2 separate regions of the Homo sapiens genome follow, and region 2 is linked to region 1. A link means that fine-mapping ties the variant in region 1 to the expression of a gene that starts in the linked region. Tissue or cell type: lung. Region 1 holds a variant in brackets; the other region holds the start of a gene. All regions are shown on one strand. Distances are from middle to middle.

The links. PIP is the estimated chance that this variant, and not a neighbour inherited with it, causes the effect.
Region 2: AMDHD2 starts here. The variant in region 1 is fine-mapped to the expression of AMDHD2 in lung (GTEx, PIP 0.98).

The regions. Positions count from the first base shown.
Region 1 is chr16:2,597,382-2,600,129 of GRCh38, reverse strand. PDPK1 (3-phosphoinositide dependent protein kinase 1) reads right to left here. Exons shown (of 14, transcript NM_002613.5): 14 at 1-2,479. The coding sequence ends at 2,363. Among named protein-coding and RNA genes, the nearest start is that of FLJ42627, 40 kb to the left of the region's middle. The variant G/A (reference allele first, on the strand shown) is at 1,213.
Region 2 is chr16:2,519,410-2,521,909 of GRCh38, reverse strand. AMDHD2 (amidohydrolase domain containing 2) reads right to left here and starts at 1,539. Exons shown (of 11, transcript NM_001330449.2): 1 at 1,369-1,539; 2 at 1,005-1,141; 3 at 787-926. The coding sequence starts at 1,451. ATP6V0C (ATPase H+ transporting V0 subunit c) reads right to left here. Exons shown (of 3, transcript NM_001694.4): 3 at 1,692-2,369. The coding sequence ends at 2,165. RefSeq lists silencers at 1,324-1,393, 1,564-1,673.

The sequences.
Region 1 (2,748 bases):
GAAAACCGGAGTAGACATGAGCAAGCACAGGGTAAGGAAAGAAAACACACGGGCCTTTCAAAAGGGAAGAGCAAGGGGCTGGGTGAGGAGAAAGGTGACCCACAGAAGGGCTTGGCTGTCAGCTCAGGCAATGGCATCATTTTGGCTGGCGGCTGCCAGCTCTGGCTCTGAGCCCCTAGTTCTGTGGCTTTGGAGGTTAAGATGGAGCTTGTCAGTGACGCCCAGGAGGTGGTGGTTCTATCCAGAGGAAGAACGCACGGAAGAGTCTCCCCAAGCAGCCCAGCCGAGTGCTCCAATTAAAGCCACGTCCCTGCTCCACTTGTTTCCCTATAACCAGACGCCCTGAGAGATCTGAGAGAGCCACTCTCCTACATGGAGACACAGGACGTTCTGAGATGGGTAAAATAGCTGATGAGGAGGAGGAAGCCTGAACAGAAATTCCTGAAAGGGCTAAGAGAGACTCCCCAACACAGCCAAGCCTTTCCAAAAGCCAGGAGGAGGAGAGAGGACTCCGACTCCGGCCACAGGCCCAGGGCAACGTGCTGGGCCCCGGAGCGTCCTGCTCCCTGGGGCCCCAGGGTAGGTGCGGCCCAGCTCACCCCAGCTCACGGTCACAGGCTCACATGCAGCTCTCACACAGCAGCAGCCAAGGCCCAGGCAGGAACCACAGGCAGGGCCTGGGGAACATCTCTGCCCCCTCCCAGGCCCCGTCTGTACTCGCCTAGCTAAAAAGAGCCACTCTCGTCATTAGCAGTGTAAAAACGACACCTTCCCTCTCAGTTTGGATCTGGCCTGGCACACAGGGTCACTGCTGAGTCACCTGTGACTTGGGGGTAGGGACCAGGGAGGGTGGACACAGTTGAGTCAGAGGCAGGTCTGTGGGCAGCAATGTCTGCCTCTCCCCCAAAGGGAGTGAGGGCTGCCCTCCAGGGACAACCTGGGCAGGGAGAGAAGGGCCCAGACCTGCCAGGCCACCAGGAGCACTCTCTACCTGGGGAGTAGCTAGGCAAAGGACAAATGCATCTGGCCTGTCTGTGCTGCAGAGCGGGGCAAGGCCACCAAAGCATCAAAGGGAAATGGCCCCAAAACCGGCTCTCTCTAGAGGAAAGCCGACCAGCAAGCTGGGGTTGAAGTGTGCTGTTCTCGCCTCCTGTGCAACAGCAACTGGCAAAGCCCACTCTATGGGCCCAGATGAGCCGGCAGCATGAGAAG[G/A]CTGTGAGATTTCTGATGCACAGATGTAGAAGCTCTGAGGGGCTCTGAGAAACTTGAACCAAAACACAAAAGGGGCGTGTGTGACGGTGGTGTCTGCACTCCCTGGCGTGGTCTGCAGGAGACAGAAGCACCCTGGGTCTGCTGATGCCAGGGTTCTCTCAGACCCTACTTCAGCAACTGGAGAGGCGTGGACATTTAAACCTTTTAGGAGGCCCTCAGGCCTCTCTGCTCCACACGGAAGTCAGCAGCCCTCTCTGCTCTGGCTGGCTTCTCCAAGGCACCTCCTGGCCCCACCTAGGGCTCGGGGCAGGACTCTCTCGTGCAGTGAGCCAGCGGGGTACTAACTGGGCTCACTTCTGACAGTACCGCTCCCAGCATGCGCTCGGCTTCCAGCCCCAGAGACCAACACTGCTAAGTAGGATAAGGGATCCGGAGCCCTCGATGGCACCCTCCACTCGGCAGCCTGCTCCCGCACCACTCCAACCCCTCCCGCTCCTCACCACGCAAACCTGCCTGCCAACACAGCAGGGGCCACAGAAAGCTGCCACCAGAGCCACCACAGGGATATGTAATGGGCCCAGCCAGGCCTAAGGGCCCATCACAGGGAGACGCAAGAAAGGGAGCAGGTGACAGAAGCACGGCGGCTCCCTCCACAAAGCTGCGGCCCCCGCAGGGCTCCCTCCCTGGTGAAGAGTTCCAGGACCACAGCGGGAGGGGCATAAAGAGCCAAACACACCCGGTCCCCTCGGCCACAGCAGGACCAGCACACAGTTGGGGCAGGGCGGGCGCATGGTTCGGACTGATGCTAGGAAAAACTGGTGACACCAGGTCTGTCCACTAGTCTGGGCGGGACTGGGTTGACGTGCATGGAGCTGGGTCCCCACGGCAACGAGGGCACACGGAGGCCTCCACGGAGCACAGAGAGCAAGCAAAGCGACCCTGAATTCCTTTGTGTTTGTTACTGGTTTTGTTCTTTGTGTGGTTGGGTGTTTTTTTTCTTCTTTTCTTTTAAATAAAAATGCTGCAAGGTTTCCGCCTCTGCGTTCCCCTTGTGATGGCTGGCAGGTGGTCTGGAAGCGTCCCGGATGGCGGCCAAGCCGCGCTGGGGCAGGTGTCCTGGCAGCGAAGGGCAGCCCGGCCGCAGGCCACGTCACTGCACAGCGGCGTCCGGGTGGCTCTGGTATCGCTGCCTCCAAACCTCCTGGATCTTCCTGCACCACTTGTGTGCGTTCCCGCTGGGGTCCATCAGATAATACGTCCTGTTAGGCTGCGAAGACAGAAGCCGTTTAGTGTTCTCCAGGGAGTCCCACCAAAACCCCCACCCCAACCTGGTGAGCTGCCTGCGACCAGCCATTCCGAGTCCTGAAAGCACGTGGGTGTGACGGTTATTCACACAAGCAGTAAGCAACTACACAGGCTGATGACCACCACCCCCAGTCACCACCAAACTGAAAAACAAGCACAGGGTGTCCCCTGCCCCCTCAGGACTGAGCCACTAGTGTGGGCGTCTGGGATGTCGGAAAGGGCGAGGCAGCT
Region 2 (2,500 bases), 78 kb after region 1:
GGGAGGCTGAAGCAGGAGAATGGCGTGAACCCTGGGGGGCGGAGCCTGCAGTGAGCCAAGATTGTGCCACTGCACTCCAGCCTGGGCGACAGAGCGAGACTCCGTCTCAAAAAAAAAAAAAAAAAAAACTAAACAAAAAAAAAAAGCATGTTGGATACAACCTACTCTCAAATAGTTCAGTAAAAAACAGTAGCACAGGTACAGCCAAGAGGAGCCTGAATAGTAGTAACATACAGCAAAAAGTTAACCCTGTAGAACCTAAGTAAAAATTAAAATAAAAAAAGACCAAGGACAACCAAATTTCTTCCGGGCAGGAAAGAAAATGGAAGCGTGGGGCAAGCAGTACAGGAGCAGGGGGAGTCTCTTCTGGAAGGCGTGTTCCACTGAGTCACACATCAGACAGGTTAGGGAGGAAGAGCCTGACCAGGGACTATCGCTGTGCCAATCACAGAATCCCCTGCGGCCTTGGTTAAGGGGATGGTTTCTGAAGCCTGGAGGCAGCCAGAGTGCAGTGCAGGGGGTGGGGACGGCCTATGGCTCAGACGGTGCTGAGCCAGCAGTGTGGAGACAGCTGCGGAGGACAGAGGGTCTAGGGAGGCCAGGCAGAGCGACAACTGATAAAGAAGCACAGGGGCGGGACCCAGGCCCAGATCCGGTCATCAAAGGAGGCCAGACTCAGGACCATGGAATACGTGCTGGGGGTGGGGGGTGGGGCGTGAGTTTGAAAATGAGGGCGCTGGTTGCTCCGGGAGCCCCCTCCACCTCAGCCAGGGAGCCTCACCTCACCTTGTGATAAACCTCCGGTGGGGAAGTGACCAGGGTGGGGCAGAAGGAGGTGACGCCGTGCGACAGGATCCTCCGGGCCACGAGGGCAACCCCCGAACCCACGTCCTCCGTGGCTTGAGAGAAGTCAACACCAAATCCACCTGCAGCCACAGAAAAGGAAGTGTCGCATGGAGCTCAGAGCTCCTCCCCTGGGTTCCCCTGCCGGCCCCGGGCCGCACCGTTGATCTGCACGTCGATGAATCCGGGAGCCAAGATGCGGCCCCCGCAGTCCCGCCGCTCGTCGGCCACGCGCCGCTCCTCAAAGAACAGCTTCTCTGGGTCCAAGATGCGGCCTCCGCGCACCCACAGATCCTCCCTGGGGACGCAGTGGGTGGGCGCTCGCATCGCGGGCCTGACCTCGGCCCCGCACCCTGCACCCCGCCCGGTCCCCGGCCCCGCACCCTGCACCCCGCCCGGTCCCCGGCCCCGCACCCTGCACCCCGCCCTGTCCCCGGCCCCGCACCCTGCACCCCGCCCGGTCCCCGGCCCCGCACCCTGCACCCCGCCCGGTCCCCAGCCCCGCAGTCCCCGGCCCGCGCCCACCTGAGCAGTTTCCCTCCGCGCAGGATCCGGCAGTTAGTGAACTGGAGCACGCGGGCCCCCGCCGCGCCCTGCTCGCCGCGCATCGTGAGCCGTGTCGGGAGCGAGCGGCTCCGGAGCCCCGCGGCGGCCAAATCCCGCGCCCAGTGACGAACCCCAGCCGAGAGCTGAGACCGCGCCCACGTGACCTTCAGCTGACTGAAGCGGCGCGCCACGTGACCGCCGCGCCCACGTGATCGAGCCAGCCCACGTGACCGGCAGCGCCCGGCGCCCGCCCGCCCGCCCGCCCGCCCCCGCCCCCAACAAGCTGAGCAGACACAGGCCCGTCACATCCAAGAACTTTATTGGACACAGCTCCGCGCAGGGCCACGGGCCCGGCGGTGAGGGCGGCTCCATCCAGGAAGTCTCAGCAACAGGAACCCACAAGGCGACACTCTAGCTAAGGTTATAGATAGCTGGGAGACAAGGGCCGCTCCGCAGACGCAGGAACAGGCCAGATCTTTATAAATAAACATCCAGTAAAGAGAAATGACAATTCTAAATCATCCGCATACACAGAGCACTCTAGGGGGTGGGGCGCCGGGGGCCTGGAGGGGCGATGAGTGGGCCCAGATGTCCACGGCACGGGGCGGGCGGGGGCAAGGCCGGGGAAACAGACGATGGGCACTAGGACACTGCGCATGTACAAGACCAACTACTGGGGGCGGCGGCCCCGTGCGTATGTGTCAGGCTGTTCGTTCTGGAATGAGGAGGGGTGGTCTTTACATAATATTCTGTGGCTGGTGGGCTCGGAGAGGGTCTACTTTGTGGAGAGGATGAGGGCGACGATGAGACCGTAGAGGCCGAGCACCTCGGCGAAGATGAGAATCAGGATCATGCCCACGAATAGTCGGGGCTGCTGGGCGGTGCCCCGCACGCCAGCGTCCCCCACGATGCCGATGGCAAAGCCGGCTGCCAGGCCGCTCAGGCCCACGCTCAGGCCGGCGCCCAGCTGGAGGAAGCTCCTGGGGGCGAGAAGAGAGGACTGACATCAGCAGCCTGCCAACCAGGGGGAGACAAGGGTCCGGGTCACCACCCACAGGTGAACCGCCCCCCTCCCTGCAGTCCTCCAGCCCTGGGCAGGGGCCTGACCCCA